Homo sapiens: one gene and its partners. The protein of the gene in region 4 interacts with the protein of the main gene of each other region in a biochemical or structural test. Each region holds a gene or a part of one and is shown on either strand. Other genes may lie near its edges.

Region 1 (3,500 bases), on a different chromosome or scaffold from region 4:
GTGAGAAGGACCAGGAGCACACAGTGTCCAGGGCCAGTCCATCCCTGTCACCCCCACCCGCCAGGCCCACCAGAACACTCTGCTGTCCTATGTGGGAGAGGATGTCCCCAAGCTAAACCCAGGCCACTCACCTGTCTTGAGGGAAGATCAGCATGTCCCGACACCCACCCTGCAGGCTCTGGCTCCTGCAGGGAAACCAGAGGGCATGAGTGAGGTCAATCCAGCTGGGTAGGTCCCTGCCGGATAAAGGTACACAAGCCCAGACCGTCCTCTAAGCAGGACCTTGTCATGCCTGATCTGAAGGTCATCCCGTGGTGCTCCTGACTCATAACCACACACTCATGTGTACCTTCTTGCCCCCACATGTCCAGGACTGTAGGTGACACTGGGCTGCCACGGTTCCTTGTCAGCATGTCTAATGCTGTTGACCATCCTTCAGAAACGTGATCCTTCAGAGATGTGGACTGATAATGACGTCTTCCCCATCACACACAGCACAGCAGTATTCCCACCCCAGGGTAGCCAGGCTCAGGGTCCTGTTGCCCCACGCAGGTGCTCACAGCCCCATAAGACATCTGCTCCACCTCCCTAGAGTCCGCTCCCGCCTTGTGGGCGAGGCCACGTGCCTCTCCTGAGGTTCCCTGAGGCCAACATAGATCCTGGGCCCTCCCAGGCAGGCAGCTGCCCCCAACAGTCTCCAGTACAGGGAGGGCGGGGAAGCAGGCAGGTTCCTGGCCCTGGAGCTGTGGCCAGGTGTGAATAACCATTTGTCTGGGATGGGGGACCTGGCACTCAAGCCTGGGGAGCTGAGGCTTATGGGCTGGAGCAGGAGACAAGGGGGTGCCTGTACTCACACAGCTTTCAGCCTTCCTCAGGGGAGGACCCTGCGGCTTCCTGTCTCAGCTAATGGCCCCGGGGACACATTCCCTCTCCTTATATCTAGGCCCGGGGATATTGCCAGAGTGTTCATGTCATAAAAATGAAAAACAGGACACTGCAGACAGACAGGGAAGGGCTGGGCCTCGGATGGGAGGCTGTCTCTGGGGGACATCGGTAATGAGAGCTCTCTCCCCCGCCTCTACGGTGTTTTCTAGATTGTTCTGAGGCCCCGCCCAATAGTCCTTTGTGGTCATGGTCCATTCTGGTGCCCCAACGGTGTGTTTCCCCGTCTCACGACAGCCTCTTCATCATGGGAAGGGGTCCAAGTGAGGGTGGGCGACTGGCTACGCCTCAGGGTGGGATCATGGGGGGTGGGATGCAGGGCCTGAGGCAGGGAAGAACTGGGGACCAAGCCAGGCACATGTGCATATGCATGTGCGTGCATGTGAATATGAGTGTGTGTGTGCACCTGAGATGGGCAGGCCCGGTTGGGAGCCCATCCACCAGCACTGCGCCCCGAGGAAGAGGAGATGCTGCTCCTACTCCAAGGTCTGAGGCTTAGGAACCAGCTTTTGCTCTGAGTGTGACATTTCTAGGAAACCTCTGGTTTTAGCTTAAGTGTTCACATAGGTTTTGTACCACAGAGAACCATGTGACTTTTTTTTTTTATCCCTGATAAGCACCAGCCTCTCCCCCGGAGTCACCATGTGCCACAGAACCGAGACACACTGGCTGTGAGCCGTCATCTCACTGACTCTACCAGGTGTCTCAGGTTGGCTATATACCCCATTTTACACATGGAGAAACTGGGTCCCAGCCAGACAAGGGCTGGGCCAGGATTTAACTCAGGTCTTCCTGCCTCCAGGCCTCCCAAAGTCCCCCCCCCCCACCCAGTTGGGGAAGTGTGACCAAAGGAGAACATGGGTCCTTCCTCATGGGCCTCCTACCTCATGGGGTCCAGCCAGGCCAAGAACCTGCAACCATATGGTAGAGCCAATAGCAGACCCTGGGAAGGGGTCCAAGTGAGGCATTGGAGAGGGCTTCCCCCAGGAGATGGGTGGGAGCAGAGGATAGCAGCACCACAGGAGGCTGAGTGGTAGGAGCAGCCAGAGCTGTGGGTATCCTTCCTAAGGGTGCACTAGGCACATCAGCATCGTACAGGCAGGGGCAGAGCAGAGCATCTGTGGACAACCTAAGGGAGCTCTGGGCAGTGGACGGACAGAGGGACGACAGACAGGACAGTGATGTGAAGGCAGAACTAGTGATAGGATCATATGGGAAGGTGGGGAGGTGCTCACCTTGGGGAGCCCCCCTGAGTGCTCTGCAAGCTCTGGGGTCACCTGCCTGGCCAAGGACCCAGTACCAGCCGCCTCAAAGCGGGGGAATGACCACGCCCTTTATTGGGCCCTTTTCCCAGTGAGGATGGCCTGGGCCTACCCATGCCATGGGACCCCCACACTGGGTCTCCCCACCAAACTGTCCAGACCCGATGGCTGGCCATGGGGCTCTGTCAGCCCCTGGCTACACCCCACTGATGCCCTAGTAAGCCCTGTGGTTCTGGCACGGTATCCATGGTCCAACCAGAGGGCTGAGAGGTCTCACACTGGGGCATAAGCCTGGCCCAGGCCACACAGCCAGATTGGCAAGCTACAGTCCTTTGGATAGCTGACGGCACAGGGCAGCTCCCATGGGTACACACTGGGCCCAGAACTGGGATGGAGGATGCAGCCTGGGCTGGGTAGGCAATGAGGGGCCCAGGTGAGCTCGCTCTGCACTCCCTGCAGTGTGGCCTCAGCAGGCCACCCCCTCCCCAAGTCTCCTCGCTTCCTGCTCTATGAGCGCGAGGTGACACTGACTGTAGGTAGCTGAGAACATGCCCTGGCAACAGCCAATGCAGGCAGGTGAATGGAGTGCCCCGTGGCCAGTGGACAGGGAAGGTCCATGCTGCTCAATGACAATGCTGTCCACTACAGCAAAACCGAGTGTTCTCCTAGGCCTGCTGCCACCCTGGGCACATAGTGAGAACACGCCCACTTCTGCTGTGGACATTGAGGCACAGACCACACCTGGGAAGGCTTGGGAGGCCCCTGGGCACACACTTGAAGGACACTGCACTTTTGGGGCTACGCAGGCACAGGGCTAGTCCTTCACTGTCCCTGCTGAGCCTGTGTGTGGTCACCCACCAGCTGGCCTTCAGGCTTCCTTCTGCCTGCACCAAGCATGTTGGGGGTACCGAGGGGCCTTGCTTGGCTCCTTTCCAACTCCACGCCCTCAATAGGCGGCTTGGAGGCCGAGCTCCGGTCATCCAAGCCAGGTGTCTGGGGAAGGGTCCTGGTCTGCCGCAGGAAGCTGGGTGGAGCCGGTCTTGCCTGCTGTGGCGGTCCCAGCTGCCCTCTGGTGGCCATGCTCAGCTCCCCGTTGCTCTGCCAGAGGCGGCAGCCCCTCAATCAGCAGGGGCAGTGGGAAGGGCCTGTGCATAACTGGTTATGGAGTGGGGGGAACTCTGTGGCCCCAGGCACCCACCAGCTCTGGGTCATCTTCCCGACCTGAAACAGGCCAAGATATGAAGGCCCTGAGCCAGGAAAACCTACTAAGGGATCCCTGATCCCAAGTCCCCTCAG
Region 2 (3,500 bases), on a different chromosome or scaffold from region 4:
GGCTCAGAGCCTGCCAGGGATGGGCCAGGGAGTCTGGAGAGGCCCAGGATGCCTGCGGGGGGGGGGGGGGGGGCACTGGGATACCGGTGGGGGGGGCACAGGGATGCCTGCTGGTGGAGGGCACACAAGGATGCCCGTGGGGGACACTGTGATGTGGGTTGGGGGGGGGGGGGGCAGTATGGGGATGCCCACTGAGGGGGCACTGTGACTCCTGACCAGCAGAGAGTAGGGGCCTCCTCCCGCCTTCCATCCTCCCCGCCTTCCATCCTCTCCGCCTTCCATCCAGCCGTCCTCTCAGTCTCTTTCTGTGCACCTGCTGCACCAGCCTCCTCCCAGAGGAGGTCCTCCCCACCTCACCTCCGCACCCCCGGCTGCACTGCCCACCTCCCCTGCTCCACCCACGCTCAGGCCCTGGTGCATTGCAGGATGGACAATGGGGAGGCCTGCTTCATCCTCAGCAGCAGGAACGAGGTGGACCGCACGGCTGCAGTGAGTGAGGCTGAGGCCCTGCCCAGGCGGGAGGGGCACCGTGGGGCCGGGGAGCGGGGGTCCCTGAGGGAAGAGACCTGCCCCAGGCTGCCGGTGCCGCCCAGCAGCCCACAGAGGCCAGCCCGTCTGCACTGACCAACCACCCACCCCGCCAGGACCACCAGACCATCCTGCGCGCCTGGGCCGTGAAGGACTTCGCCCCCAACTGCCCCCTCTACGTCCAGATCCTCAAACCTGAAAACAAGTTTCACGTCAAGTTTGCTGGTGCGTCTGGGGCACACGTGGGTGATGGTGTATCTGGGGCAGGGCACGTGTGCACACGTGGGTGATGGTGCATCTGGGGCAGGGCGCATGTGCACATGTGTGACGGTGCGTCTGGGGCAGGACGCGTGTGCACACGTGGGTGACGGTGCGTCTGGGGCAGGATGCGTGTGCACACGTGGGTGTCGGTGCGTCTGGGGCAGGGCGCATGTGCACACGTGGGTGACGGTGCGTCTGGGGCAGGGCGCGTGTGCACACGTGGGTGACAGTGCATCTGGGGCAGGGCACGTGTGCACGTGTGTGTCGGTGTGTCTGGGGCAGGGCGCGTGTGCATGCTGTTGGGTGATGGTGCGTCTGGGGCAGGGCGCGTGTGCACACGTGGGTGACGGTGTGTCTGGGGCAGGGCGCATGTGCACGCAGTTAGGCGAGCTGTGTGGGGCAGCGGGAGGGGCTGGCCCTGGAGCTCCTCACACAAGCACACCAGGAGGTGCTGGAGGGGACGGCAGACCCCCATCCTCACCGCATCCGAGAAGGGACCTAGGGGGTCCAAACTCTTCAGATGAAGTCTTATGCTGGGATCCTGGGGTCAGTGAAGGCAGGGTCAGAGGTCAGGTGGGGGCAGGAGCACCGTCTGATGAGCACCTCTATGGGCAGGGACCATGCCGGGTGCCCGGGGAACGGGGGGCAGGCCCCATGCCAGGTGCCCAGGGGACAGGGGTCAGGGCCCACATGGAGTGCCCAAGGCACAGGGGCCAGGGCCTGCCCCGCCCTGGAACTCCTCGCTGAGCTGGGAGAGAAGCACAGGAGCGATGGAAGGTCCACCGAGGCTCAGACCAAGTAGGGGGTTGAGGTCCACAGACTCTCGGGGCAGAGATGCTGAAGCCGGACAGCAGACACGGGGGTGCCAGGCAAGGGTGCATCTGCATAGCACCTTCAGGAAGTGAGCAGGTACTGTGGGGGAGGAGAGAGCCGGCAGAGCGGCAGGTGGACCGGCCTCCCCCACTGCCCGCAGACCACGTGGTGTGTGAGGAGGAGTGCAAGTACGCCATGCTGGCGCTGAACTGCATCTGCCCGGCGACCTCCACCCTCATCACCCTGCTGGTGCACACGTCCCGCGGCCAGTGAGTGCCCCGTGCCCCGGGGGACCGACCTCCATGGCGGGGCCGGCGCAGGGAGACAACGCAGGGCCTGCTTGGGGGCGGGGATGGGCTTCCCAGAGGAGGGGCACATGGCGGGCAAAAGTCCTGCATAGGGAGGGGATCCATGCCAGGGGAAGCAGAGGGGGGCACCTGCAGACCCAGCCGGGGAGAAGGGGCAGCCATGGCCGAGGGTGACGCTCCCCTGGCCCCGCCCTGGCCCACAGGGAGGGACAGGAGTCTCCGGAGCAGTGGCAGCGCATGTATGGGCGCTGCTCCGGCAACGAGGTGTACCACATCCGCATGGGTGACAGCAAGTTCTTCCGCGAGTACGAGGGCAAGAGCTTCACCTACGCGGCCTTCCACGCCCACAAGAAGTAAGGCCGGGCTGCATCCACAGGGCTGGCGCTCCAGGGCTGCTCTGCTCTGTGCCCTCCCCACCCTCCCGGTCAGGCACAGGGGTGGCCCTGGGGCGGGGCTGCAGAGGGCTCGGGGGAGGGCATCAGGTCATCCTGCCTGGCGAGGGCAGCCGCAGGACTGGGCTCCGGGTCCACATAAAAACCTGCCACGCGGCTCCTCCCTGAGGCTTGTGGGCTGACCCCAGCTCTCTGGTCCCCAACACCTCTGGGACGGGAGGGCTCAGCCAAGGTCCCTGACCCCAAATGGCCCCCAGGAGGAAGACGCGGAGCTCCGGTGGGGACTCTGGTGATTTGCAGGAAGGGCAGGCAGGGAGCGGGACAGGGCGGGTGAGCGGCGGTACCTGAAGTTGCCGGTGCCTCTGCCCAGGTATGGCGTGTGCCTCATCGGGCTGAAGCGGGAGGACAACAAGAGCATCCTGCTGAACCCGGGGCCCCGGCACATCCTGGCCGCCTCTGACACCTGCTTCTACATCAACATCACCAAGGAGGAGAACTCGGCCTTCATCTTCAAGCAGGAGGAGAAGCGGAAGAAGAGGGCCTTCTCGGGGCAGGGGCTGCACGAGGGTCCGGCCCGCCTGCCCGTGCACAGCATCATCGCCTCCATGGGTGAGCCGGGACAGGCGCGCGGGACTCCCTGGGCCTGCTCCTTTGGCGGGAGACCAGGCGGGACACCGGCAGGTGACCAGGTGGGATGGGAGACCAGGCAGGACAGGGGGAGGTGACCAGGTGGGACAGGAGACCAGGCAGGACAGGGGCAGGTGACCAGGTGGGACGGGAGACCAGGCAGGGCGGGAGACCAGGTGGGACAGGAGACCAGACCGGGCAGGGCAGGAGACCAGGCCAATGTGGCCCCCAGACCCAGTTCCTCTTGGCCTATGCCTCCAACCTTGGACAGGTGGAGTCTCTCTGGGCCTGTTTTTGAATCTGTCAAACAGGTGTCCCCGCCTTCCTGTGGCCACCTTTGTGGGCATTGCTCACTGTGTCCAAGTGCCTGTCCAAGTGGGGCCGCCCACAGGACCGGTTGGCAGCTCAACCGGAGGCTCCTGGTGGTCCCATCAGCCCGGAGGGTCTGCTTCACGTGTGTCCCTCAAACAGTCGGGAGTCCTGACGTCCACTGGGGCCAGGAGTTGGCGGAATGAGGTCGCAGTGGCCGAGGGCTTTGGCCTCTTCTCGTGCCTTCAGGGATCCTCCCGGG
Region 3 (3,500 bases), on a different chromosome or scaffold from region 4:
GAAATATGAGGCTGAAGTGTTGGTAGACATCTTCCTTGTGCCAGGGGAAGAATATCAACATAAATAAACAAAGCTGCCCTCTGGAAGAAACAGAAGAGAGAAGAGAGAGTGTAACATGCTGGACAAACAGAATTACTGGTGCTAGTTGAGCTGGAAGACATTGGTGTCTCTGCTTCTCCTCTGATTTGTATACATGAACATTTCTCTTTAGGCTTTAGGGTATCTGTATCAGGTTTCTGTCATTTACAACAAAAACACATCTGCATAAAGTGAGTAATGATATAATAACATATTTTTGAAAATTTTTAAGCCAAAAATCAGGAAAGATAGTCTTATTCTTGTCAGGTCATAAATTAATAAATAGGTTCTTTTTATACATCAGTAAGTGAAAGGTTCACTGTCTGAGGCACATATATCAGTCAGAAAAGATTTCAATAAAGGTTCTTAGAATTTCTGTTGAAAATAACATTTAGTAACTATCTGATATTATTTGTACTAGATTATCAGCCCTCTGTAGGGAAAGTGTGTCCTGGAATAATTTCAAAGGCTCTAAGCACACTTCCAATCTGTTGTTGACCTCTGTCCCCTTTCATCCCTGTTTTGGAAGAGACACACAGATTTCATCATAGAAAGCTCCAGGGCCATGATTCCATTCCTACTTTGTGTTTTGAAGTCCTTGCCTCTCACTTTTATTCCATGAAGACTGGCAATGATAATATCCACTCACAACTTCTTTTTCATTTGAGAAAAATGAACATGCTCTGAACACGCTCTGTCTTACTCAGTGACCCCACAGTAGTGATTAATAGGTTGACTGCTAAGCCCTAATGAATGTGTCAGATCTTAGGTGTTCTCTAGGCTACCAAAGGATACCTCTTCTCTAACAGAGATCTGATAGAGTAGCACTTGTACATTTCATGATATAATATAAGCTAAATTGACTAAGGCTATCTCATAGTGTGTTCTCATCCCATGTAATAATTTATATAACTTATATTGTTGTTACACAATAAACCAAGCCCTCATGTTTGTAATGATCAGTATAGTCTATATAACTGTAGAGAAAGGGAAGATGCATGCCAGATCAAACCACCTTGTCCAGGAGGTGTCCAGAGGGACAGATGTCCTTCCGCTTATATTTAATTGGTCAGAACTAGTCACTTGGCCTCAGCCTAAGGGGAGGAAAGCTGGGAAATATAGAGGAGTGCATGGATGCACGGTGAGCATAATAGTTTCTGCCACACTGTACCATATTTCATAGAAAGCTTTAGTAATATTTATGCCTACAGATGAAAAAAAGAGTCTAACATGGCATAGATATAAAAAGTCCACAGCCTACTTGCACAGGGCTGTCAAAGTGTACCTGGTACTTTTTGCTTTTTATAAATCTAAGATGAAAGCTCTACCTATCTCAAACACAGGAATGGAATGACTTTCTTTTTTTATTGCTGCTAAGATATTGCACAGCATGAATTATTTTAATAGCCTCCCTCATTCTGCAAAATATTAGGGCACAATGTAGAATAATATATTGAGCTTATTTAAAATTTTAAGAGAATAGAAAAATACATATTGTACATTATGACCACCAACCTGCTATGTTAAAGCCTTTTGCTTCTCGGCCTCCAGTAAAATAAGCTCAGTGTTCTAATGTTCAATCCCCATGTAAAGTAGTTCATCACAAAACTATCACCCTTACTTTAGCACAATTGGCCGTCACTATTCACATAAAACAGAAAAATAAGTTACCATGGAGACAAAGCCAATTCTTCTCTCCAGAATGGCTGATTCTTCCAAGTCAGAATAGATTTTTACCAGAAAAGTCATATAAAGTACTCACAGAAACTGGCAGTCCAAATCTGTCGCCAGTAACTGTAGAGGTAACCATATATAGATTATCATTCAATAGAATACAAAAACAAATATTGCACTAAAAGATAATCCTATGTAATCACTATTTACAAAATAAAACCCTATGTCCTTCTAAACAGTGTAGAAAGTTTAAATTATGTTTTCTACCTCTACTTAGTGCTTTATTAATGGGGTGACCACACTGTTTGACCTATTTGCTAAAATTTGCTAGATCTCCAGGAGAACATATGGACATCCAGATGGATTGCTGTAATGTGATGCCATTATTCTAAGGATGAAGTAAGGTATAAACATAATTTGCATTCTTTTCCATCCTTCCTGCGAACCTTTCATTAGTTTCATTTTTAATTCAGACATCAGAAGGGAAGATAATACCTTGCTACCAAAGCCCAGATACCAACTAATTACTACAAGAGACTCCAGTCCTGACATCACAGGCCAGGCCTCTGAACATGCTCCATCTTACTCAGTGACCCCACAGTAGTGATTAATAGGTTGACTGCTAAGCCCTAATGAATGTGTCAGATCTTAGGTGTTCTCTAGGCTAATGCAATTAGCATTGTGTTGAACAGAATATTTCAGCTACTTGCTAGAGAGACTCATTATACTTCACAGTAAACTATGTCTTTTCACCTTTGCTCTCCAAATTTTTTTTATAATCATCAACCTAAAAGGCTCCTATAAATATATTTCACATAGTGTAAGAAAATTTAAGTATTTTAAAATCAAATAGTGATTTTCTTCTACAACAGTGAACCCCTGTGTTGTATATAAAGTGAAGTTGTTTTCAGAGATGCTTGTTAAAATGCAAGTTTCTGAACTCTAACAACAGAAATCCTGATAAAAGGGGATTTGGGATAAGGCCTAGGACTTCATTTTTAACAAGACTCATGACTCAGAAGCTAAGCATTCTGTAGACCACAGTTGAAGAAAGACTGCAATGTGAGTAACAGGACTAATACCTGTGTCTTAGATTAACTGACTATATCAGACTTTTTGTTCTAAATAGTTACTATGTTTCTGAAAAAAAATTATCTGCATCCACATTAAGAAAATTATTTCCACATTAGATTATAATTTTAAATGTGCCAATTATTTTTGGTTAAAAGATTAGAAACTAATTATCAGGATAAGACATAGATGTTATTTCCAACAAACTATGTAAACGTGTAAGATCTATATTCAACAGTGGACATGGCAGGTAAAAGCATTTTCATCCACTAGACAATGGGCCTAGAATTGTGTTTCCAGTTTTAAAAGAAGGACCAAAGGTGAGCAGAATTTCTGCAATTCCTGACTTTTCTCTATGGCCAGAGATGAAACATTTGCATGTTTTAGCCCCGATAATGGAGGACTTTAGGCAATATTCCAGGTACTTACTTGGATCTCACCTAGATATTGCCTTCATCAATTACTAAATACCAAGAATTTGTATGTATCTAGCACTGCTTTCACAAAACAAGCATATATAAAATCCCTGTTAATATTTAACTTAGACATATTTTATTCATCTATCACCCTAAAAATTTTAAGGCAGCTTTTTCCAAATTTATAACTATTTTAACAAACTACCATTTTCTTCATGAATTTCAGAAGAGTTCTTTTGTGCTTTTAAAAAATTATACCAT
Region 4 (3,500 bases):
AGTAGCTGGGATTACATGCATGTGCCAGGATGCTGGGCTCCTTTTGAGATTTTTAGGCTAAATCATCCATTGTGTCCACTGTAGAAATGCCTACTAACACTTGTGTGGCTTTATGACCCCAAGGAGATCAAAGGTCAAGATTGACCCCAAAGTGGGGAAGGATGTACCAGGTACTATCTGCCACGTAGTTGGCCAGATATCTGCCAGATAGTTGGCCACTATCTGGCCAACTTGCTTATAATGGGTATTGCAACTCAGAATGCAGTTCCTATAGGGGTGGGCGGAATGTTTCTGTTAAGAGGCACTTCCTTTGTGTGGTTGCCACTATAACTGTAGCTCTTATATAGCTCAGCGTCAAAACGCTGTCATGGTCCTTCATGGGCTAGCACAAGGGTCTGCAAACTTTTTCTGTAAAGGGCTCCATAGGAAATATTTTAGGCTTTGCAGTACATATGGTCTCTGTTGAAGCTACTCAACTCTGCTGTTCCAGCACAAAAGCCACCATAGATGTCATAAACCAAATTACAGTGGACACTGAAATTTGAATTTCATACAAATTTAACATGTCACAAAATACTATTCTTATTTCAGGATTTTTTCAACCATTTAAATGTTCTCATAAGTGGGAACTAAGCTACGAGGACACAAAGGCATAAGAATGATACAATGGACTCTGGGGACTCAAGGGGAAAGGCTGGGACAGGGATGAGGGATAAAAGACTACAAATTGGGTTCAGTGTACACTGCTTGGGTGATGGGTGCACCAAAACCTCACAAATCACCACCAAAGAACTTACTCATGTAACCAAATACCACCTGTTCCCCCAAAAACCTATGAAAATAAAAAATAAGTAAAAATAAAAATAAAATGCAAAAACTATTCTTAGCCCACAGCTCCATATAAAAGCAGGCAGTGGGCCAGATCCAGCCCCCAAGGCACATTTGCTGGTCCCTGGTCTCGCACTTTTCTCTGGATATTCCGCCAATACAGGTAACAAACCCTGATGGATGGTTGAGCTACTTCTTGTCATGTTACTTTGATATCACTTGGGTTATTTTTCTGGAGGTGTTGACAGGTATGGGCCTAATTGTCAGAGACATTCTGGAAGACTCCAGGAAGAGAAGGGTCCTGAAGCCTAGAAAAGGACCACCAAGTGAGGGCTTGGGGACACTGTTCCTGAAACCCTCTCTCTGGCCAGCCGGGCCATCTCAGAGACTCATTACGAGTCTGCTATTGCTCTGTCCATCTGGAGGGTCCTCGTGGAGCAAGGACTTTTGAAGACAGAAGGCACCCTCCTATGGATGAGTCCCGAGCCGAGCCAGGTCGGAAGGCCTGGCCAGCAGGAATGACAAGCAACGTCCGACCACGTCTGTCAAGGATCAACATAATCATCTGAGCCAGTAGAAAAGGAACAGCGCTCCCTCTTCCTGCTACCCCCACAGGAACAACAAGAATATTGGGAAAAGAGAAAACGACTCCAACTCACGCTTCTGCTGGGGTATCAGGAATTACTTCAATTATATACGCTCCTGAGATCACGTCTGGGAAGTCCCGGTGCCGGTCCTTCAGCTCTTTGGCTTTGCTGCTCCAGAGAAAAAGCACCCGTGTTAGTGTGAAGAAACACCAGGCCTTCCTCACGCAAAACTCAGCTCTCACCAGTTCCCGTCTTCTCCTTAGGTCTAAGGTAAAATTCCTCCAGGAATTCTGATCCTATTTTAAAATTAAAATTGCCTGTCTACCAGAGTCAAAGATTTACTTGGTAACAGCAAGGAAAGTGCTTTATTATTTATTTATTTTTTTTATTTATTTTTTTTTTTTTGAGACAGAGTCTTGCTCTGTCGCCCAGGCTGGAGTGCAGTGGTACGATCTCAGTTCACTGCAACCTACATATCCCGGGTTCAAGCAATTCTCCTGCCTCAGCCACCCGAGTAGCTGGGATTACAGGTGCCTGCCACCAAGCCCGGCTAATTTTTTATATTTTTAGTAGAAACAGGGTTTCACAAATTGGCCAGGCTGGTCTCGAACTCCTGGCCTCAAGTGATCTGCCCGCCTTGGCCTCCCAAAGTGCTGGGATTACAGATGTGAGCCACCGCACCCAGCCATCATCATTGTTATTATTTCTTAATTAATAGTAGCTATTACTAAGGAGTCAGTAAAGTACAGTGGTTGGCCTGGTTTGCAGCCCTAGCTCGGCCATTTGCTAGCTGTGTGACCTCGGACAGTTGCTTAACTTCTCTGTGCCTTCATTTCCTCACCTGCAAAATGGGGATAATAACAGTACCCTACAACATGAGTTGTGAGGATCAGATGAGATCATCCCAGTAAGGCACCTGGCCCAGTACGTGTGATACATAGTGGCTGGCATCACTGTGGCTGGTGACCCCTGCCACCACTCCCTGATCTGAGCCTGGCCACACATCAGAAGCACCTGCGCTGTCATCCCTATCCTGAAGAGGAGGAAACTGAGGCACTCAGGGGTCATATCGTTCCCAAGGTCACAAGGCAGGACATATCAGAGCAGGGACAGGAACCCAGGAAGCTGGGCACCAAGGGCTTACCATCTTTCCCTACACCTCGTAGTTCCAAAGGCAAACAACTGAGGGGACACTTTAACCTTGACAAATGGCTCCATCTTCTGGAGTGCTAAGAAAGGGACCACCATTCATAACATGTATCAAAATATATTAATACTTTCACAGTGAGTGAATCATTAATTCATCATAGTAATGAACACATTAATCTATCTGTTACTATATTCTAGTCTTTACCTACTTTACCTCTGACAGTTTTAGCCATGCCAGGTGAGTCTACTACCAGGACTCATGAGATTACACCAGAATTTTTCATCCAGTTTAGAACACCAGGATGCCATGAGCCTGCCAACCACAGGCCGCAATTCCACCAGCTCGGGGAAAACAAGCACATCAGTCATTCACTTCCCTGCGCTGGACCTGCCCTGGCATTCCTGGAGCCGCGGCCCACGAGCTGCAGAGCAACGAAAGCAGAGTGCCTAGAGCTGCGGGAGGGGCTTGGGGCCCTCCTGGAATGTGGGTTTCAACAGAATGTGGGGTAAGGAAGACGTGAGCCAGAGTGAATCAACAGCCCCACCACGCACACACTGTTCAGGCCTGCCTTCAAAGAGGAGGGCAGAACCTTCTACACCGGAGGGCCTGCTGCCAGTGAAGAAAACCAGCTCAGAATGCAAAAACACAGGTTAAAACCAAACAAAGGGGCCAAGGCTAATGACCTGTCCTCTTTCCCGATGCTACTTCATTATAAGCAGAAACTGAGACGTCTTAAGGCAGCATAAGGTTTCTCTTTCAGGGGTGCCCGTGAGCACCTTCTGAAGTTCAGGTTTATTAAAATTTAAGACACAGACACGCATCCTGTTTACCCACCTGGACGTGAGTGACATCATTCGGATACCAATATACTTCTTCTTGGTGATGGCTTTTCCTGGTGAGACAACAAAGGGACAGCAGAAGGTCAGCCCAGTTGG
Region 5 (3,500 bases), on a different chromosome or scaffold from region 4:
TAATTGTAATTTAGGGATACAGGATGAAGCACAGTACGAGTCTTCAAATGTTGATAATCTCCAAATTGTTAAGACAGGTCTTTTGTCATATGTCAAAAGAGTACACCTTCTCTGGCACCTTGGGAGACTGGGACTTCAGCGAGGTACAGTTAGAATGACCGTGGCCACATTCCTGGACCGAAGTCGGCTGGGGACCATATTTAGAGGGTCTAGCATTGGCGGTGGGGGCCGGGGGTAGGTAGGGGATAGGGAAGCATAAAAACTCTAAAGCCTCAAACAGGGTGAGCTTTCAGCTAAAGTCAATTTCTCTATTTTCTAAGAAAAAAGAACCAAGATGAACAGGTTCTCTGGTAGAAGATGATTTTTCTGGAAGAATGCTGAGTTATTTTCACAACTTTGATAGTAACTCACTGAGCCTATCTATCAATGGCTCAACTACTCAGCCCTATTTTCACATCTGCAAAATAAGAGGCCTAGGGCTCCCAGGGTTCCACAAGCCCTTAGGTAGTGAAGGGGGACAGGCTAGTTTTATTATGTCAAAAAGTCTGCTGGAAATTTTGTGTAGCCCATCAGAAGAGTGCATTAGCTAAATATGTTCTTTATTTTGGACTGGAATATATAAATTCTGGCTCAAAAACTCTGAATCTTTGGGATATAATGTTTCCCCCTTTCAGCTCATAATGTCATAGAGATAGACACCAAGAAATAACACAGACATCTAAATTCTTCTGTCACTAGACTCAGCCTGCATCTTAAAACCGGCAGGTGACACGCAATTTCCCCCAGAGAACTCCGGCACCAGATCCATTGCTGAGTGGAACCACGTGCTTAGGTTGGAACCTTTTCCTTCTCTCCATGGCACAGCATGGGGGAGGAGAGTTTTTGGAGACCTCATGCTCACAGCCTTTCAGAACAGGACAGAGAAGCAATCTGTTCTGGAAGGCCTGGAGTGTGAATGCAGCGGGCCCCACACGTCACACATAGTCGTCCCTTACGTGTATTCCATGTCCTGACACCTTCTGTTGGCCTGCACCACCTCCTCCTCCTCTTGCCAGATGTGGGCCTCCAGCGAGCTCTCTCCGTAGCTGCCATTCCGTGAGTGGTTGATGATCGTGGTGTCCCTGGCAACACAAGGATATGCGTTTGATCATAGGAAACCTTCTTGCTTTGTCTCAATGCAAACAGACACAGAATGGAGAGGCTGGTGTTCATGCTGGAACAGAGATCAGCTCTGCATCTCGCATTGGCTCATGAAGCCTTTCCCTCCCAATTTCCCCAGCTCAGTTATCAATCTCATCTGATGCCCATACAGAGAAAGGTGTAAATGCTTGTGGAGAGGTGATCACAGGGTGCCGTGCTAAAACTCCACAAACTCCTTCACCCACTTTTCCTCTCCTGAATTCTGTCCAATTCTCTTCCTTAACTAGATAGAATTAAGCAGCATCTAAGGAAAACAAAATAAAATTCAAAAATCAAGTCCCCTCCCCCTTCTGACTACATTATGTATGTAGCTACATGGCATGTTATGAATATGTAAAATGGGCACCTAGAGATTTAATCTACTGACTTATGGACACTATTATTATTATTATTATTATTATTATTGTATTTGTTGGTGTTTCCATGCTTGTACTTTTTCATGCTTGTCCTATACCTCACTTTTCCAATCAGAGTTTAGGTTTTATTTCTGTTTATCATCCATACAGCATAGAATGCCTACTTCAGTATTTTACAGTAAAATGGGGGCTCAGTAAATACTTAAAACTGAGACTGGTCCTCTCAGAGAGTGAGGCTCCAAGCTGAAGTCTTCCTTCATGTTGTATTCTGTCTCACTTCTTGTTTTATGGGCCCTGCCTGGGATGCAGGTCAGGACAATGTAATAGGCATGCCAGGGTCCAGGACAGAAAGAAGAAGGCAGACACTGTCCTTGACAAGTTCAGGTGAGGTGGGTGCAGTGAGGGCAAGGGCAGACACGAGAAGATCAAGAAGCAGTTTCACTGCAAGCATCTGTCTGACTATAAACAACCAGTCACAGATAACTATTCCTGCCACTGGTTTTGACAATTTAATTACTACTAACTAACAATGATTAGTAAAAATAAGATCACTGCATCATCTAAGTGATATAGCTCAAGATGAAAGGCACAATAATGGCTCTGACTACATGAGTATTTAATTAGTAAGACATGATGTAGCCAAGTATTTCACATCTTTTAACTTCATATTCCAATGTACAATCATACTGAAAAACTTTTTTTTTTTTGAGATGGAGTTTCATTCTTGTTGCCCAGACTGGAGTGCAGTGGCGTGATCTCAGCTCACTGCAACCTCCACCTCCTGAGTTCAAGCGATTCTCTTGTCTCAGCCTTCCAAGTAGCTGGGATTACAGACATGCGTCACCACATCTGGCTAATTTTGTATTTTTAGTAGAAATGGTGTTTCACCACGTTGGTCAGGCTGGTCTCAAACTCCTGACCTCAGGTGATTCACCCGCCTCAGCCTCCCAGAGTGCTGGGATTACAGACGTGAGCCACCGCGCCCCGCCTGAAAACTTTAAAGCTTTTTTTTTTTTTTTTACAGAATAGCCCAAAACAGAAAAATAGAGGCCCCTTTAATGACAGCTATCAACATTAATGAGCATTTACTTCATACAGGGACTGGGTAGGGCACGGTACACATGGTCTCTCATTTAGTTCTCACAACTTGTGCACAAGGTATTATTATCCTCAATTTCTAGATGAAGAAACCAGGGTTAGGTGACATTTCCAAGAATACTCAGTTAGTGAATAGTGAAAATGGATTCTAACTCAGGTATTTATGACTCCAAAGTCCATGCCCCTAACCATCGCTCTATACTCCTGCAAGTTTCATATGTCTTTAAGAAGAAGGTCTCAGCAAAGATGAGTAAAGATAAAAACAAACCAGAGGGCATATGTGAGAATGTGGCTCAGAAAAGTGCAAAGTGTCATTGAAAATACACTAAAGGCCAAATGATGTAGAAAGCAAACAAAATGCTTTAAACATATTTGCAAAATTATAAATTCACACTATGGTGCACAAAATCATCAATATAGAAATTAGTGGCTAGAAACATTTTCAACAAATTTACTTTTGGAGACTTTACATGGAGCTGGAAACAAATCTGAAAATTCATGTTTACATTGCCAAGTAAGGAGAGCAAACACAATTAGAGGAAAGCAACTTAGATAGTAAATATATAAAACTCTGAAAGAAATATTACATTGCTTTGAAATTTTTAAAAATTTTCAAAACCTTCTGCACACATAAAAGATAAGCTGACTCTCTAAAAATTCTGACCAACACCATCAAGATGCATAAAGATGGGAAAACCAGTTGGTTTACAGAAGTTATTTTCTTTGTTTAAAAATCATTGATTATAAATATAAAGCATGCATCTGTGGTTGAAAAGTCACAAAACTAATGGCTGGAAATAGTCATTTTTACCAATTTGACTGTGGCCATTTAGCACCTAGTCAATA
Region 6 (3,500 bases), on a different chromosome or scaffold from region 4:
GAGATCGTGCCAAGTGTGCCACTGTGCTCTAGCCTGGGCTACAGAGTGATACTTCATCTCAAAAAAAAAAAGAAAAGATATTATACTTTGGACAGGAGCTGTGTTCCCATCTGGGACTTCCTGGAGAAGATACAGTACAAAATAGTTACAGGTACTCACCAGGTTTTCATCAGAAATGAGGGAGCTCTAATTGTAGGAATTTCTTCAGAATACATTTCCAAAGCAAATGGAAAAGAAAAGGAGTCCAGAAATGCTGATTACTCGTTGTACATTAAATCTTTATAACTGCGTCAAGATTATTCACCTTGATATCCTATACACTAACCCCAGGAGTTTAGGTCTTATTCCCAGGGTCTTATGGGATGTGCTGGGGTTTCTGGAAGCCTGGCTAATTGCTATTATAGCAAGTCTATAGTCACTCACTAGGAGACTTATTTGCTGCATATTTAGAGATGTGATATATTCTGAATGTGAAACAAAAGGATTCATAAATCTCTGAGCCTCGCAAGGACCCATGAGAAAAAAAGCATTTATTCATATCAAATATATAAGCAAATTAATATATAAGCTGGAAAGGTAGCACTTCAAATCTTATGTCAGACATTCTTCACAACTGAAAGAATTCCTAGTGATTTGTAATTTTTCTGCATATACTTTATAAAAAATCTGTAGTCCAGACCCTCACCTCAGCCATTGAACAGATAGTGTCTTGCAGGTCTAAAACACATGTCATTTTCTGTTTTTAGACTACATCATTGTATTTGGTTTAGATGAGGCCACGTTGTGATACAAACAAGCCAGAAATTTCAGACGTTTGACACAAACATTTATATATACAGAAAAATGAGAAGGTGGTAGGGAGTTAGGTAATTTTGTTTTAAATGAAAAAGGGACAGAAGGAAAGCTATATAAATGGTTGGAGTGTATAGACAAAGTAGAAGAAAAATATGTGGTCATGAATGAATTAAAATATGGTTATTAATGAATGTTGGGATGCTGGATAAACAAATTAAAAATATGGGGTGCTTGGATAAACATCTTCATCTTTCAAAACAAGAAGTCGTTTTATCATGCCTCCAGAAAAGAGCAGCATAAGCACATGATTTAGAAACATCATGATAATTATCAAAGGAAACATCTAAAATTGTGCAAGGATTATCTCTGGGAAATGAGAGTGGGAGGAGGGAACTTTTGGGCACAGTGAGGTAGGAGACCTCATATTTCATTATATACCTTATTAAATTATTTTAAAACTATGTGCATGTATTACTTTGGCAAAGAAAAGGATTTAAAAAACCCAGAAGATATATTTGGTAATTTTGGCATGTAAGTTGCCTGTCGTCATGTTTTAAAATGTGATGGCAAGCCTGGTAGGGTACTCAGTTGCAGAGAGTAGAAGAATTGCTGCTCCATCCTCCACCCTCTTTCTCCTTCCACTTGAAATACTTTCTTAGAAAGTATTCATTTGGAGCAAGAGGAAGGGAGTAACTAGAATCTTACGAAATTAGAGGTTGTTTGAGGCACAAAGTCTGATGTGGAAGATTTGGAGGCTGGGGAGTAATAAGGAAATTAAGGAGCTTAGGAAGAGGAGTGGAAAATAGGTGCCCAACCGGTAGGCAGTTAGAAGAAACAGAACTCCCCAAACCACAGCTTTCATAACATTTCATGAGTCAGTTTTCACACAATAGATGCTTATTTAGTTGTAATAGTGGAAACTCTATGTAATAGTGGAAATTTCTATATCCTGTACCCAGGGGTGTTCCCAGGGACAGGCATCATTGCATAACCCTATGCTCCAGACTCAGTCTCATGGCTTCTTGTCTTCACAGGCATTTTCTTTTTGCACTTTCTTTTCGTTTAAAACCATCAACACCACACGACAACAAAGCATTAGGATATATGATCATCTTTCACTCACGTAGGAGAACAAGAAATGGTTTTAAATGGAATCTGGAAGACTTAGACAATGCTAAGGAAAAATTTAATGATGGAAATATCGACAAATATTCAACATCATTTAAAAACAAAGTAGCTTCTCTTATTTCACATAGCTTAGTTTGGGATAGAAATAGAACTAATGTTTACAATGATTCTTACATTTAGCATTAATCAGAAACGAGGGTTTGTTAAGTGCCCTTGCTGGGTCCCAACCCCCAGAGATTCCGATTCAGCAAGTCTGGGATGCGGCTTGAGAATTTGCATTTCTAACAAGTTTCTAGGTGATGCTGATGTCAATAGTCTGTGTACCGTTTGAGAACCGCTGGATTGATTCTTTGACAGTTTTTGAAGTCCGCTGCTCACCATATCACTTCATCCTCTTATAAACTTTCACTATGTGATTGCCTAAGAGCCCCTGCTTGTTGGCTGCTCCACATTTTCACACAGTTGTACTATTTCTTTCTGAAATGACATTGTTTGAGGGACAGTGGGTGGAACGTGTGAGCTCCTCACTGAAGGCTGCCTCCAGAATTCCCTGAATGGACTGCCTTGCTTTCTTCCTAAAATCTTTCCCCAAGAGGGCATAAAGGAAGGGATTAAAGCAACTATTGGCAGATGCTAGAGCAATGCATACATGATCCCAGGACATCAGAGTTTTCCCCAAGGGAGTTTCTGGGTCAGTAAGCAATGACAGGACTCCAAAAATGTGGTATGGAGTCCAGCAGACAAGAAAGACAGCCACCACCACCACGGCCACTCGAAAGGTTTTGCTCTGAGACTTGGCGAAGCGGCCCCTTTGCATTCGGAAGACAATGAAGCTGTAACAGGCTATCATGATAACAGAGGGCAGCAGGAAACCCACCACTAGCCTAGTGATCGTTATTGCCACGAGGGGTGTTGGCACTTGATCGTCATCTGTGAATTGGCCTAAATTGTAATAATCCTGGAAACCTTGTGGTAGCTCAGACTCGTAGAAGGAATTGCTAGAAGCGCTAGGGAACAGCTTTAAATGAGTAGAGAGAAAAGCATCAGAGTTATCCAGTGGGCTGGTTTCGTGATCTTCAATAGGAAACCCACTGGGGATTTTAGGTGAGACCACATCAGCAGGTTTAAATACATTAGAATACAGATTTTGACTTGTTAACCTAGCAGAACCCCTAGGGAGTGAATCTGCAGAAGGTCTTTGAAATGTTTGAGGTTGGAAGACAGTGGGGACTGTCCAAGGATGATCATTTGTTTGGAAAGAGGAAGGATCTAACCTATCATTCATTTCTCCAGGCGGCTGAACAATGTTTTCAAGAGACCTGTTTTCTAGTGGATCTCCATAAAAGTCTGGATAATCTAATGAGCTGGAGAGACCAAATTTGTAGCCACATCTATTATGGTTGTCTGTAGTGAAGATTTCCCGGTACACGAACACAGGAATGCACATCACAAAAGCCACCACCCAGATACATCCACAGATAGAGCAGGCCATCCCTACATTGCGATGATTCTGACACCAGATTGGCTTGAATACCACAAGACAGCGATCCAGGCTAATGGCAGTAAGCAGGAAGACA
Region 7 (3,936 bases), about 11 Mb from region 4:
CAGCACAGTGTCCCCACAGAGGGGCTCTGGGAACACCAGCTAGATGGGGCAGTGGGGCCCTGAGCACATCCCGCTCAAAAGCCCCATAATGAGAGGCCGGGGAAGCGGAACGCTGTCACCCCTGCATCTAATTCTGCCTCTGTGAGTCTTCATGACAACCTCCCAATAGTACATCCTTCAGGCCCCTCAAAATCCATGGCAGCAGGGCCTGGGGACCCCCTGAACAGGCGCCAGTGTCACAGAACCTGGGGCAGAAGTAGCCATGCAAGGGTGGAGGCCAAGGAGGGAACAGGTGGAGGGGTGTGGGGTCACCCAGGGCCAAAGGGGGAACAGGTGGAGGGGTGTGGGGTCACCCAGGGCCAAAGGGGGAACAGGTGGAGGGGTGTGGAGTCCCCCAGGGCAGTTCCTGAGACTCTTGCTGAGGCTGCCACCAGGCCAGCACGTGCCCCAGAAAACGGAGTTTGTGACGAAAACTGGAGTGGACTTGGACCCACCTTGTCGGGTAGGAGGCCCCTTGGGGCAGGATAGGGACCTGTGGGATGTGTGCAGAGCCCAAACCTCGCTGCGGGTGGGAGGCTGGGCTGCGCCGCCCCTGGCACCCTGGCCTCCACACTCGCCTTGGCTCTGGATGCCCAGCTCTGTGGCCCAGGATGCAGGAGGGTTGGGGTAGGGGGACAGGGACGCTTTCTGCACAGCCACAGGCCCTGTCTGTCTACACCGGCTGCGGCTGCCCTGCTGACTCACACTCAGACGGGTTCACGACAGGTGCACCTCGGTTCTGGCATATCTGGACTTGAGAATGTTAAATAAAGGATGGAAAATTCCTTCCAAATCCATTTTCTTGTGTATATTTCTGTTCCTGCAGCTTCTCCACGGATGGAGATTGTCTTTGGGAATAACACAGGGTCGTGCAGTCCGCCCGGCGGCGTTTTCGGGCGAGGGTCTGGTGCTGGGGAGCGAGCGCGGAGCGAGGTGTCTCTTTAAATACGCTCTGCAGTGTGACGGCGGCCGCCCGGCTGGAAGAGCCATCCCCACCCTGCGGCAGGAGCCCGCCCGCCGCCATCGCCCGCCCCGGTCCCCATGGTTACGCGCCTGCCTCCGGCCCCGGGTCCCCGCTGTCGCCGCGGGAGGTGCGCGCAGAGGCGGCGGCGCTGCTGGCCGGGCTGGGCCGCTCGTGCGCGGGGCTGTGACTCACCGGCCGGCGCCGCAGCCCCGCAATCTGTTGATAACTCGGTCCCAGCTCGGCCGCTGCCCTCGCGAATGGAGAGCGGGTCCCCGGCGGGGGGAGCGCAGCGCGTCTGTCTCCGGGAGCGCGGCCCGGCCGCCCCGGCAGCCGCTTCGGCCACAGCAGGTGGGAAGGACGCGCGGGTCTGGGCGGCGGGAGGGACGCGCGGGGCCGCGGCTCGGCAGAAAAGCTCGCGCCCCGAGGTGACACTGGCCGCGAGGAAAGCAGCTCCGAGTAACTTTCGGCTCCGCTGGGGCGGGAGGCGCCACGGATAATCCAGGGCCCCCGCCCCGCGCGCCCGGCCCGGAGCTCGAGCCACATCCAGGCAGAGCAGGCGCCGCGGCCGGGCTGGGGCGGGCGGGTCACTCGGTGCCGGTTCCCGGTGCAAACCCCCCGGCGCGCCTCTGGCTTTGTGCAGCCCGAGATGGTTGAGTTTGGCTCCGGAGCCGGGAGTGGGGCGCAGATTGATTTTTAAATATGGAGAAGGAGACGCATCTGCCGCTGGCGCGTTCGGTCCGAGCCCCCCACCGGTCCCCACCGGCACCGCCTCCGCCAGCCCCAGGCGCAGCCCCCAGGCCGCCCGCGGAGGGGAGGGAGCGACAGGGGCCGCGGCTGCTCCCTGGCGGGGTCGGGGCTGCGAGCTGCCCTCCGCGGGGACCCTCCGCCCGCCCCGCTGACCGCCGCTGTCTTCACAGATGGGAGCAGCTCCCGGACTGCGCCCGCCCCGCCGCGGTCACCCTGAGGCCAGGGGCCCGGGAGCGCGACCTCCTGGCCGCCGTCTGGGACTTTGACCTTCCAGAGGCCATGGAGGCTGGCGGGGAGCAGGGCGCCACCTGATCGCCTCCCCCTGGACGCCTCCTCCAGCGGCGCTCACGCTTCCGCAACTTTGCAGCGCTCATGGTGAGTACGGGGGTCCCGGGGGTCCTGCAGCTGGGGGCTAGGCCGCTGCGGGGGGGCGGCCACCCGTATGGGGACTCCCAGGCTGGAAAAGTTGTGGAATGGCGAGCTGGTGACCGGGCTTCCGGGCTCAGTGCCGGGGTGGGAGGCTCTGTGGAGTGGGGGCCGGGGACAGGCCGCGTGTCTGGGCACCTCTGCTCCCCGCGTGCTGGGTGCTGATCATACTAATGAGTTGCAGGCATATGGCAATGTGGAATCATTTAATCAATGGAGGCGACGTCCCTCCCGCAAAGCTGGCATCCGTGCCCTGTGAAAACCTGGTCTGTGCCTGGGCTGGGGTCCCTGCCACCCCAAGCCCCTCCACCCTGGTCACCGGCCTCCTCCACGCCACCCTGCCGGCCCCTTCCCATTAGAAAGTTGATGAAAGGCAGTGCGGACAGACGTAGGTGGGCTTCAGCAGTGGAGGCTGTGGCGGAGAGAAGGCGGCCGCGCACACGGCAGGCACGGGAAGGGTGTTTCAGCGGGAAGGGGCTCGTGGCTGGCAGCTGGCTGGATCGGCTAGCCGAGCCCATCGTGGGTCCCTCCCTGAGGCACCAGCAAGCTTTTGCTGCAGTTGCTGAATGTCTGGGTTCCGGAAGGGCTGACAGCTGAGTGAACAATGCATTGTGTGTGCTGGTAAGGGACAGCTGACAGGCGGTGAGGACCCAGGGCACGTGCAGAGAATGCCAATGGCCTCTAGAATGTGCGGCCGCCACAGACGCCGGCTGGCGTGCTTCGGAGCAGACCCAGTGTTCGCTGCATAAGGAGCCATCGGTCTGAGTCACTTGCTCATTTTCTTCTTGTTCCGTTCGAAATGTCCAAGCAAGAGAGATGCCTTTGCCAACATTCAGTATCGTCTTCCAGTGGCTGCTTCACCTCTGAGGCTGGCTGAGGTCTCCGCACTTACCTTTCAGACACCTGACAAGGTTGCGTCTCCAGCACCAGCAGCACCTCAGGGGGCAGCAGGCCAGCCCCAGGGCTCCTGCCTGCCCCCAGGCTCCCACCAGCCTCAGGAACCATCGCTGTTGCCCCGCAGGTACCACACCCAGCGCAGCCCCAGGCCTCCCAGTTGGCAGGATCTGTGGCTTTTCAGCCTCAAATTGAGACCCTTATTTGCAAAATGGAAAACTGTCATTGACAGAGGACAGTGAACGGAGAAGGGCTTCTGAAGGTGGGGGTGCTGCCGCAGCCCGGGGGTCCCTCTCATCCCCTTCCTCGCCTCCTCCTCTCTAACCCTTGGCCCTTCTGCGAACAACTGTGCGGGGGCCTCCCCAATCCAAGAAGGGCACCACCCCTCGCAGGCTGAGCCTGTTCGTGCACTCTCCTCTCAGCTCCTGGCTCCTGGTGGAGCTTCCTGCTACCACCTCCTCGGCCCGGGGCCACCCGGTCCCAGCCGGCCTGGCAGCCCAGAGCTCCTGCTCACCCAAGACTGTGAAAGCCTGCTGAGCTCGATCTGCCTGGAGAGTGTGGCATTTCAGCAGCTCACTGTTTTTATTCACAACAAGTAACATTTGCACCTGAGAAAATCTCTGAAAGTGTGAGGAGTTGCCCTCCCGTGCTGCATCAGTCTGGTGCAGCATTTTTCTGCATGTGTCTCCAAGTTCACAGCGTAGTGTGACAGCGTAATTCACAGCACGTGTCTCCAAGTTCACAGCGTAGATACCTGGGCAGGCTCACCCCATGGCCATGGGGTCTTGAGAAGGAAGCCTGGAGGCCGTGGCCAGGGCAGGGTGGCCCTGACTCTGCCTGCCCCACTGCTGTGCTCTGGGGGGCTC

The links.
Region 1: the proteins of HTRA1 (region 4) and ARVCF interact in a test that uses a peptide from one of them, tested with the Homo sapiens proteins (one large-scale study listed by IntAct).
Region 2: the proteins of HTRA1 (region 4) and KCNT1 interact in a test that uses a peptide from one of them, tested with the Homo sapiens proteins (one large-scale study listed by IntAct).
Region 3: the proteins of HTRA1 (region 4) and SLC16A7 interact in a test that uses a peptide from one of them, tested with the Homo sapiens proteins (one large-scale study listed by IntAct).
Region 5: the proteins of HTRA1 (region 4) and AMOTL1 interact in a test that uses a peptide from one of them, tested with the Homo sapiens proteins (one large-scale study listed by IntAct).
Region 6: the proteins of HTRA1 (region 4) and C3AR1 interact in a test that uses a peptide from one of them, tested with the Homo sapiens proteins (one large-scale study listed by IntAct).
Region 7: the proteins of HTRA1 (region 4) and ADGRA1 interact in a test that uses a peptide from one of them, tested with the Homo sapiens proteins (one large-scale study listed by IntAct).

What each region holds. Positions count from the first base shown.
Region 1 is NC_000022.11:20,010,324-20,013,823, forward strand, and holds part of ARVCF (splicing regulator ARVCF), read right to left. Parts: intron 186-3,500; 5' UTR 132-185; intron 1-131. UniProt on the Homo sapiens protein: Contributes to the regulation of alternative splicing of pre-mRNAs.
Region 2 is NC_000009.12:135,768,185-135,771,684, forward strand, and holds part of KCNT1 (potassium channel subfamily T member 1), read left to right. Parts: intron 1-425; coding exon 426-489; intron 490-644; coding exon 645-753; intron 754-1,762; coding exon 1,763-1,871; intron 1,872-2,113; coding exon 2,114-2,263; intron 2,264-2,672; coding exon 2,673-2,911; intron 2,912-3,500. UniProt on the Homo sapiens protein: Sodium-activated K(+) channel. Acts as an important mediator of neuronal membrane excitability. Contributes to the delayed outward currents. Regulates neuronal bursting in sensory neurons. Contributes to synaptic development and plasticity.
Region 3 is NC_000012.12:59,707,529-59,711,028, reverse strand, and holds part of SLC16A7 (monocarboxylate transporter 2), read right to left. Parts: intron 1-3,500. UniProt on the Homo sapiens protein: Proton-coupled monocarboxylate symporter. Catalyzes the rapid transport across the plasma membrane of monocarboxylates such as L-lactate, pyruvate and ketone bodies, acetoacetate, beta-hydroxybutyrate and acetate.
Region 4 is NC_000010.11:122,510,053-122,513,552, reverse strand, and holds part of HTRA1 (serine protease HTRA1 precursor), read right to left. Parts: intron 3,458-3,500; coding exon 3,400-3,457; intron 1,584-3,399; coding exon 1,488-1,583; intron 1-1,487. UniProt on the Homo sapiens protein: Serine protease with a variety of targets, including extracellular matrix proteins such as fibronectin. HTRA1-generated fibronectin fragments further induce synovial cells to up-regulate MMP1 and MMP3 production.
Region 5 is NC_000011.10:94,862,356-94,865,855, reverse strand, and holds part of AMOTL1 (angiomotin-like protein 1), read right to left. Parts: intron 1,122-3,500; coding exon 996-1,121; intron 1-995. UniProt on the Homo sapiens protein: Inhibits the Wnt/beta-catenin signaling pathway, probably by recruiting CTNNB1 to recycling endosomes and hence preventing its translocation to the nucleus.
Region 6 is NC_000012.12:8,056,360-8,059,859, forward strand, and holds the end of C3AR1 (C3a anaphylatoxin chemotactic receptor), read right to left. Parts: coding exon 2,378-3,500; 3' UTR 485-2,377; downstream 1-484.
Region 7 is NC_000010.11:133,086,788-133,090,723, forward strand, and holds the start of ADGRA1 (adhesion G protein-coupled receptor A1), read left to right. Parts: upstream 1-1,136; 5' UTR 1,137-1,351; intron 1,352-1,920; 5' UTR 1,921-2,122; coding exon 2,123-2,125; intron 2,126-3,936.